2 separate regions of the Homo sapiens genome follow, and region 2 is linked to region 1. A link means that fine-mapping ties the variant in region 1 to the expression of a gene that starts in the linked region. Tissue or cell type: testis. Region 1 holds a variant in brackets; the other region holds the start of a gene. All regions are shown on one strand. Distances are between the middles of the regions.

Evidence for each region. PIP is the estimated chance that this variant, and not a neighbour inherited with it, causes the effect.
Region 2: it holds the start of ANKRD44-IT1, and the variant in region 1 is the best candidate, but not a certain one, in a credible set for the expression of ANKRD44-IT1 in testis (GTEx, PIP 0.65).

What each region holds. Positions count from the first base shown.
Region 1 is chr2:197,280,504-197,285,888 of GRCh38, forward strand. The region is part of intron 1 of ANKRD44 (ankyrin repeat domain 44); the gene reads right to left. All of the region lies in intron 5 of ANKRD44-IT1 (ANKRD44 intronic transcript 1), which reads right to left. Among named protein-coding and RNA genes, the nearest start is that of ANKRD44-IT1, 19 kb to the right of the region's middle. The variant C/T (reference allele first, on the strand shown) is at 3,343.
Region 2 is chr2:197,300,557-197,305,941 of GRCh38, forward strand. It overlaps ANKRD44-IT1 (ANKRD44 intronic transcript 1), which reads right to left and starts at 1,963. Exons shown (of 6, transcript NR_046837.1): 1 at 1,677-1,963; 2 at 407-857. All of the region lies in intron 1 of ANKRD44 (ankyrin repeat domain 44), which reads right to left. RefSeq lists enhancers at 1,371-1,660, 4,239-4,368.

The DNA of each region.
Region 1 (5,385 bases):
ACTTAACAGAGAAACACAGAGATCCCAAGCTGACTCCGTGGTCTAAGATCTGTCAGGACAAATTATGTGGAGATGGAGGAGCCAAGTGTGGGATGCTTGAGCAACCGCTGTACAATAGCCACGGTCTTGATAAGCCTCGCGGATGAGATTTTGGCGGACTAGGGATTGTACTACTGAACTTGATTGCTGAAAATGTAAAAGCCCATCAAAGAGTATTATTACCCCTTGATAAACCAGCTACCCACAGTGGTCAATTACTAATGAACAGACCTCTTTCACCAATTAAAGTCACATGTTACCACTCAATTCCCAACATATTTAGTCTTTTTCTCCCAGTAGTCCATCTCACTACTGTCTAGCTAAACCTCTCCAACTAAGATGTTGTTTGTCTTTACTTAAAAAACAGTCTTTCTGGAGTCTGGTCAGTGGGGCCCAAAAAAGAAAATAAAATAAAAATAATTTTTAAAATAAACAGTCTTTCACTAGAATGTTCTTTATATTAAAATCTTAAGCTCTGCTTTTTTTTTTTGAGATATGTCTTGCTCTGTTAACCTGCCAGAGTCCTGACTGACCTTCATTTGTTCATTCTCCTTGTGCAGTTCTTCAATGTTCTTTGCAAATGGATTTCACTAAAGTGAGTTCTGTCTATTAATGTCAGTAGGTATAAATGCCTGTCCATCTTTGGAGGGACTTTGGGAGATGATCTTATACCAAATGAACATGTTACATGCCTGTTGATAGGAGGCCTGATGCTTTATTTTCTCTAGAAAAAATAGATATTTCAATATTGTAAATTCCATTAAGGCATCCTGCTCCCCACCTCCTGATCCTCCATCCCCCACCCCCCATCACCAACAAGCTTTAGTTTCCCTAACCTCTCAATCTGGCAAAGAAACAACATCCCAGACCTTTTTGGTAGGTAGTTGTCCAACTCTCTGTCCATTTTCTTCTTGGCAAAATGGGAGTAACTTAGCTTAAACTGAAAAAACATCGTCAGTCCTTGTATAAGGCATAAGTCCCTGAGTAATTTACATCATATCTCCTTTTTGGGCCTGGTAATTTACAAAATCAGCAACAGGGAGTAAAGTACCTCTTTTGATGAATCTATCAGCAGATGTGTTTGGAAAATGAGGAAATGATGTTGCTAACTTGCCAACTGTATTTTGGCAGATAATGTAATAAGGTGACGTTTACTGCATTTCCTCTATTAAAGGAATACAGGCAAATTTTTTCCTTGGAATTAAAAATCTATATATTACCCTAAAATCCTCCCAGAAATTTAAAACTGCTCCTTTCTTGCTTATAACTTTCCCTCATTTTCTTCCCAGCAGTGGAAGAGAAGTTTAAATCTTGTTTAAATCCACAGTGAACTTTTTATATTGTGAGGCTGGTTGGTAGGTGTTAATGTAAAATTAGTGTTCTGTCTGAAGCCACGTAAGATGATTCTGGTATAAATATGGTAACTGCAGGACAGCCGTGGTGGCTCACACCTGTAATCCCAGCACTTTGGGAGGCCGAGGCGGGCAGATCACGAGGTCAGGAGATAGAGACCATCCTGGCTAACAAGGTGAAACCCCGTCTCTACTAAAAATACAGAAAATTAACCAGGCATGGTGGTGGGCACCTGTAGTCCCAGCTACTCGGGAGGCTGAGGCAAGAGAATGGCGTGAACCTGGGAGGCAGAGCCTGCAGTGAGCGGAGATCATGCCACTACACTCCAGCCTGGGTGACACAGCAAGACTCTGTCTCAAAAAAATATATATATATAGTAACTACAGTGTCTACTGTGTTTTGCCATTATGTTTTCTTTTTTTTTTTCTTGGAGTCTTTGGAGAAAGATTAAAAGGCTTGGTGGCGTATGTATGTCTTGAATGCCAGACTGAGAAGTTTATAGTAACAGGCTGGTCTGAGAGGCGGTGTGTGTTTAAGTGTTTGAAGATGAGCCTGGCATTTGGATATAAGGTACTTTAGAGAGCTCCAGTTGGGGCTGTTGGAATGGTTTTGATGTGGTGTGATGAGGACTTAGGAGTCTATGGCAGATCTGAGGGCCACCCTGGGATGTTGAGAGGTGAAACAGAGAAGATGCTTGAAGTTGGGGATTTTATTTTATTTTTTTGAGACAGGGTCTTTCCATACTACAGTGTTCTTTATACTAAAAACTTTAATCCCTCCAGGCCGGGTGTGGTGGCTCACACTTGTAATCCCAGAACTTTGGGAGGCCAAGACGAGCAGATCACCTGAGGCCAGGAGTTCGGGACCAGCCTGGCCAACATGGCGAAACCCCATCTCTACTAAAAATACAAAAATTGGCCAGCATAATGACATGTGCCTGTAATCCCGGGTACTCAGGAGGCTGAGGCAGGAGGATCATTTGAATCCGGGAGGTGTCCTCTCTACCTTAGTAGGCACAGAGTACACTGTTATGAATTTAAAATATACCAGCCTGTGGATTATTACTTGGCCAGTGAACTAATGGTATTCTATATCTGTTCAGAAACTTGTATTTTAAATTCCTTTAGAAGAGTCTCTGGAAGAGTTTTTAAGAGAAGAGAACATCATAGGAATGCTTTTATAGATATGTATGTTTGTATAAGCTTCTAAGCCTCACTTAGATTCTCACTGACCCACAGGATAGGTTAGTTTCTCTCACCAGGATGTGGAGGCTGGAGAGAGAAGTTGATGTCTCTGAGTTTGGTTACCCTTGTCCAGCACAAGACAAGTGACACCATACTGTACTGGTTATATTTTATTATAGCAAAACCTATTAAATTTTTTAAAGCCCATTATGATAAAATCCCCTAGGGACAAACAAAATGGAATGTAATTCATTTTTCAACCAATAAATATTTATTGAGTTCTATTAACCTTCATGCCAGTCTCTCGGCAGAGCCCCTGGATACATCTTTTAATACCTGCTCTACTGAAATCTCAGTATGAATCTCCATATAAAGCAATTTCCATATAAAGCAATTCCATAAGTTTCTATATAAAGCAATTCAAGTAAAAAATAGTGAAACAAATGCCAGCATGTCTCTTTAATTATGGTAAATATTTAATGTTTCCTTATAAAATAATTACAGCCTTAATAGAAACAAAACTGTTGAAAGTGTACCTGGATGACAATAATGGTTAAATATACACTTCAATAATTTAAAGTGATGAGTTGTTTTTTTTTCACAAAAGTTTAAGGTGGTAATGAAATCATTGGAATCCCTTTTACCAAAGTGAATTTTAAAAATTACATTTTCCCTCTTGCAATCATGTTTGTAGCATAAAGAAGCAATAAATGGGGGCAGGGAGTAAAGCTTGGGAACTATTCTATGTTAGGCTTGAGTAGTCTAG[C/T]GCAATGTCTGATAAAGGAGGGGTTTGAATTTTGGTATGGAAGGCTTTCTAACACTGCATTATTTTAAAGAATAGCTCAGTGATATCAGTATTCAGTTACTTAACTAGGCACGAGGTACCAGATACAGAGAGATTGTGTAGAAGAATGAACACTGTTAACTACTGTCTCCTCTCCCCGTTTGCTGGATCTATCTATGAATAGGGTGCTGACCTCTAATTTACTGAAATAAAAGGAACATTGTTCCTGGAAATATTTATGAGGCATATTGCATCTTCTCCACGTTATGGATAAGATGGAAAGACATCTATACCTATTGACATTAATAGACAGAACTCACTTTAGTGAAATCCACTTGCAAAGAACATTGAAGAACTGCACAAGGAGATGAAGAAATGAGGGTCACTCCCGCCTCTGGCAGGCTAACAGGATTTCTCTGGGTATTCGCTGCATTCCCTATCATCCCTCAGGACATTCATGTTCTATGACCAGGTCCAAGTTGCCTCACCATGAAAATCAAACAATGGAGGCCTTTTCCCAATTCTTAGAAGGAAAAAAACTACTTAAATGTGACATATACTCTTTTTCCCATTAATTTCTCCAAACCCTAGCACATACCACCACATGGTCAAACAAGAACTCACGGCAACAGAGAGTCAAACACACACACACACACACACACACACACACACACACACATAATTTGTGTGTTTAAACAAAATTCTAGAAATATGACTCATTAAAATTTTTACATTATTAGAGCCAGGCGTGGTGGCTCATGCCTATAATCCCAAAACTCTGGAAGGCCTAGGTGGGTGGATCACTTGAGGCCAGGAGTTCGAGACCAGCCTGGCCAACATGGTGAAACCCCGTCTCTACTAAAAATACAAAAATTAGCCAGGTGTGGTGGTGTGCACCTGTAATCCTAGCTACTGGGGAGGCTGAGGCACAAGAATTGCCTTAACCCGGGAGGCAGAGGTTACAGTGGGCCGAGATTACACCACTGTACCCCAGCCTGGGCAACAGAGCAAGACTCCATCTCAAAAAAAAAAAAATTAAATTTTTTTTTACATTATTCAATGTTAAGATACGAAGAGCTTCACTACTTACAATAGAAATATATCTTCTGCTTGTTAAGATAATAGAAAGAGTGATAGCCCTCTCTCAGATGGCAGAAACAGTCATAGCCCAATTTTGTGGCACTCTAGAAGGCTCCCTAAAAGATGTTCCCTTTGAGCAAGTTTAAGTATCACCCACTAGTCTCTACTTGAATCCCTCAGCCCACCCACATCACATTCTGCAGGAAGTGATGAAAAGTCAGGGAGTTTAGGTTATGTAAGGCCTGTGGACCCATTGAGCCAAACTGCAAAATGTGCATCAGTGAGCTCCACAACCTCCCCAGCCCCAACCCACTGCAGGAAAGTGTCTGGGGATGGGGCAGCCAAGAGTTAGTCACTGGAACATGTCTGATGCTATAAAATGCTACCTGTGATACCCAGATCCCAGGTTCTTTTCTTCTGGGTTCTGATCAAAACACAGTAGCCTGCCTGCGATGGAGCAACTAGAGGAAACAGGTTCCAGGTGTGGGAAGCCATGGGTTAAAAGGCAACTTGCCAAACTATGGGAAATATTCTAGTTGACGCTGAAGCCTTAATGCTTGACTCTAATGGAGGAGTCACTCCATTTTCTCATAAAAATGCTAAGTAGATTTCTGCTTTCTCAAGAAGCTAAATCCTTTTGTGGCTTTATGACTTACTCCTACAACCAAGAGCTTCTTAAGCTATTAACAGCCAAGTGTCACAGCCTTAAAGATTTGCACCGTTTGCTCATCTCAGGCATGCCCCCAGTCACAAATTCCTGCAAAATAAACCTTGGTTGGACAGATTGCAGAAAAACAAAAAGGAAAGAAAACATAAAACCTCATTATGGTTGACAAAGAACCTGTACAAAGCTTAAAGAGATCAATAAAATGATATAGGGTCAGATTCTGAAAAAAAAGAACAGATTTCACTATATGGTCACCTCTGGGAACCCTCTGACAAAAT
Region 2 (5,385 bases), 20 kb after region 1:
TCATGTGCAAGGCATTCAGTATCATCTAACTAGACTGTGAGCTCCATGGGGAAAAAGGCCTCTTGTGATACTGCACCTATTTCAAGAATCCTAATGTGTGATGGCTAAGAATGTGCACCTTGGAGTTGAGCTTGCCCAGATGTGACTCCCAGAGTCATGCGACCCTGAAAAAAATTACTCGACCTCTCAGTTTTCATTTTCCTTTTTTTTTTTTTTTTTTTTTTGAGACAGAGTTTCACTCTTGTCGCCCAGGCTGGAGTGCAATGGCACAATCTCGGCTCACTGCAACCTCGTCCTCCCAGGTTCAAGCAATTCTCCTGCCTCAGCCTCCCAAGTAGCTGGGATTACAAGTGCTTGCCACCACACCTGACTAATTTTTGTATTTTTAGTAGAAATGGGGTTTCACCATCTCTAGCCATCTCTGGCCATCTCTCTGGCCAGGCTGGTCTCGAACTCCTGACCTCAGGTGAGCCATCTTCCTCGGCCTTCCAAAGTGCTGGGATTACAGGCATGAGCCACCGCACCCGGCTTCATTTTCCTCATCTTTAAAATGAAATGATGATAGCCATCCTCTCATAAAAATATTAGGATTAAATCACGTAAAGCATGATTCTTGTCTTGTCTCCTTGTTCCCAATTCTTTCTGTCTGGTTTCTATTTTATTGTGCCTGTTCTTACCTGTCCTTCCCTTTTGTGGAGAAGGGGAGAGCAGAGAGCCCCAGCAGAGCTATGCTGTATCATTGCTATGTAGATGGAGCTCATTAAACACCCCTCGATTGCTTGAATACATGGGAGATCCACTCTTAGAACATTTAGGGACAATATTTCCTGTCCCCTCATGTCACCTTGATACTTCCCCTGAAAAGAAATGGAACTGAGAATTACCTACGACTGAGAATTACCTACAGTGCTAACCATCCTCACAACCAAAAGCACAGTTTAAAAAGAGGGAAAATATAACCAGAAAATAGGACAATATGTGATCTTTTATCTTTTCATAGGGCAGAAAACTTTCTCTTAATTTTGTTTGAATGGAAATTTGACATCCCAGTGTAAAATGAAAGCTGTTTATAGAAGTGTTTCTCTTTTCTTTGTTTGAGTACTTCATGAGTAAAAAACATTTGAACATGTACATATACAGATACATATACATATTTATATTCAATCACTTAACAAATATTTATTGAGCATTTACTATGCACCTTACCCTGTTTTAAGTGCTAAAGACACAGCAGTGAATGAACCAAACTAACAAAATAATCTTTGTCCTGTTATCTATATCTTAGCCACATGTAAGTTTTGGTTTTTAAAATGGGGGGAGTCAAATATATGGTATGAGGGATTTACACTGTGGAGGAAAATAAAGAAAGGCAGACAGGAAATGTGGAGTGGGCATTTTAAATAGTGTGGTCAGAAAGGGACTCACTGAGAAGGTAACATCTGAGGAAAGACCCGAAAGAGGTAAAGGTGAGCCATGCAGATATCTAGGGAGGAGCTGCACAGGGAGCAGGAACAGCAAGGGTCCCGAGGCAGGAGCGCAGCTGGTGTGTTCACTAAATAGGAGGAGGCCAGTGGGGCTGGAGCCAAGGAGCCAGGAAGAGGTGGACAGCAGACAAGGCTGGACAGTTGAGTGGATGAGCTGAGTGCAGAGGTCACTCTAATGACCTTAGCTTTCACCTGGGTGAAACTGGAAGTTTTTGAGCAGGAGTGACAAGTTCTGAGTTCCATCACTCTGAGAGCTACGTTGAGAGTAGAGTGCAGGGGCCAAGGTCAGACGGAAGGAGACCAGTCAGAGGCTGCTGTTATAACCCAAGTGGTGATTTGGCCAGGTGGCAGCCAGTGAAAAATACAGCCAAAAAGATGACACAGTACTAGCAAATAAGATGTACTAAAACTACATAAAAATTAAAAGTTTAAAAGAATGATTTAAAGAAATATGAATTCCAATATTCTCTTTCCCAAACTCCAACTCAATAAAGTATTGTGTTCATCCTTGGGGTGTAGGCCACACCTACTTTTGGAGGCCATTGTTTCACAATAATTGGTTGGTTGATTTGTCCCGGCTGACCTGAATGTCTGCCTGGCTTTCTGTCTTTAGACTTCTCTTATGCTCACTTTCCTTTTTCCTGATCTTGCCAGTCTTAGACACCAAAACAAGTCTCCTCCACAGAGACTAACCATACAGAGGCTGGTGATTACATGTAGGAATTTTCTTCCTTTCTTGAGAAAGTCTGTGGTCACCATGTCAACTGCACCCAACTCTGGGCCAACCCTTCAGAAATAAACTTGTTAGATGCACATGTTATTTGGGTTCAATAAAATAGGATTTTGCCTGGGAGGACCCAAGGTATTTGCTAAAGCAACACCTCTGAAGAAGGCTAAGGTGGGCCCCAGCTCACAAGAGACAAGCATGGCCTTTGTAAGGATTGCTCCCTTTATCCTGTAAGAAGTTCAAGAGGATTCTCAAAGAACCACACTGAGAACAGCCCCAGGGGTTCTGTGTCCCCACAGCCAGGCTCCTGGAGATGCCAGAAGACAAACTTCTTGGAGAAAGGACTCCTCACCCTTAGACAAAACTCAGGATGTGTTTACCAAACCTGGGAAACTTTAAAGCTGCCACAAACACACTTGGGAGAAAATCAGAAGTTCATAAAAGGCAGATACTTTTTGAACTGAGATTCCACAAGATGAGAAAAGACTGACATTGAAATATGTGAGGAGCTATCTTAGAATGTTAGAGCTTGGAAGAATTTAGAGAATTTTCTACCTGTTCCCATTTTGACAGACAAAGAAACGAAGGCCAGGACTTACCCCAAACCATACAACAGTTAGAAGAACCATGAGTAGAATCCACGTCTTCTGATTCCCAATCTAGTGTTATTTTTAAAACAAACTAAAGCAAAACAAAATTTTTTAAATAAAAAAAGCAAAACTTTTAGAGACAGGTTAGAATTGTAATTAATTTCCATGTCTAGGCTCAAACAGATGTTTCCACAAGTCTCCCTAATTTTACTAAAAGCTCTGAAAGCTTTCTTAGGGGAAAATGGTCTTCTGGTATAAAAGATATCCTAGAAAGCTATGCTTGGATGCTTAAGACTCCCCAGGATGGGAGCAAGGGGACTCTAAGCAAACAAAAACCAAGAAATGCAAACAATTATCGACTTAGTAATCCCTGAAACAGCCCAAAGTGGACTATATATTTATTTGCTTAGCTCACTTTATAGAATATAAATTTTAAGTTTTCAAAAGAGGAGGCAAGTGAAAAGATCCTTAAAAATTATGAATATCATAATTACAAGCTGGATTCATGAATCATTAATTTCAACCTCTTAGGCTACCAACATATTTACAAACATAAACACTGATAAGGGCAAATACCTGCATTCCCGACCTCTGAAAGCAGCCAAAGCCAAATAATATATTGGTTAAAAGGTTAAAAAGGAGTAATCTATAAAGAGGGCAATCTTAGGCCAGGTGTGGTGGCTTACCCCTGTAATCCCAGCACTTTGGGAGGCTGAGGCAGGCAGATCACATGAGGCCAGGAGTTTGAGACCAGCCTGGCCGACATGGTGAAACCTCATCTCTACTAAAAATACAAAAATTAGCTGGGCGTAGTGGTGCAAGCCTGTAATCCCAGCTACCCGGGAGTCTGAGGCTCAAGAATCACTTGAACCCCAGGAGGGGGTCGGCGGGGGTTGCAATGAGCCAAGATTGCACCACTATACTCCAGCCTGGGAAACAGAGCGAGACTCTGTCCCAAAAAAATAAAAATACAGAATAAATAAAATGGGTAATCTTAGATTATCTATGAATTGAAGTAGGGTGGAGAATAGGAATTAGTCCTAAGTCATTGACATGGGTTAAAATCCTTCTCTGGAACTTGAAGCTGTTTGACTTTGTTACCTGGAAAGCCTTATTAGAGCTCATCTGCAAATACACCCTTCATAGGCACATTTGTAAGAAATGCTATAACACAAACCATGTGAAGAGCATCGGTCTCCATTACAGGCACCAAGTCACAGAAGGGAGAGGGCAGAGCTGAGGCACCATAAAGGCATCCAGTCCAACCTCTTCATTTTACAAAGAGAAACCTGAAGCCTACAGAGGTTAACATGTCTTGCCAAGGGTTGGCTAATGTACAACATATGTCACTTCTCCCTTCCCGTGTACCCATAGCAAACACTGGTAATCAATCACACTTTCTCGGATCCTTGACTGCAAGAGTCAGAATGTTTCTATCACATTACACCTGCAAGTCCTGGACCGATCAGAACTCATGTGTGACATGGAAGCTGTTTCCCAACTCTGCACAAGGTCATAAAACAATCTTTGTAATACCTGCACCACTGTAGACCTGACTCAAAAGAGACAGAGTAGTCTGCTAGTCAAACTAGTTTACTGTCACTGTCAAGCCTGTGGTGAGCAAACATGGAGTCTATGTGAATATATGATGACCACATATCCAGGTTTACCCAGGACAGTCCTGGCTCACGTCTATTTGTGGCTTCATATTGAGTAGTATCACCTATGATTCTCAAACGGATAAAAATGATATAGTCATCCTAGTTCTGTGTAGTTCCTAATCATTCACAAACATTTATAAATGTTGTTTCATACATGATGTGTCAGGAAAAAAAACAAAAACAACAACAAAAAACACTTAACCAATCACCAGGAGTTTTCTCATACAAAGGGGCTTTCAAATAATACTAAACCCAACCAGTTTTCAAGAGGGACTCAGGGACCACTGTCCAAGCCAATCTTTTTTATATATTGAGCTTCAATATGAAATTTCTTCGGGGGAAAAAAGGAGTGTCATAGCTTAAACAAATTTGGAAATCACAAAATTATCAGATCTCTGTAGCTCTGCCTGTTTTTAAATTATTTCGTGCTATACTTTAGCCTATAAAAATTCACATTATCTTGTAGAAATACAAATCTTTTTAAAGAATCTTTCATTTCTGTTTCTGGTACAAACAATTTGTGCCTTTTTGAGTTCGTATTTGCTCTCTGTTTACAGCAAAAGAGGAAGTAAAAAGTTGAAATCTTAAAAAAGAAAGAAAGAAAGAAAAGAAAAAGAAAAAAGTTAGTTCCATTAATCCAGAGCTAGAGCTTATGTGCTGGCGTTGGCTAAAGAGCCAATCATATATGTAAGAGAAGAATAAGTTTATTTGGAAAAGTCATTGGTGTAGAGAACACAGATATCAGCTATGTGCACAAGTGAAAGGTAATGATATTATCACACGAAAAGTTTAAAAATTTTAACTGGCTACCCAGACAGAAGACTAGAAGGAAACATATCAAAATGTCAAGAATAGTTATCTCTTGAGTATACAGGCTTCAGATGGTTTTAAAATTTTTTGGTTTGCTCATCTAGCTTTCTGCT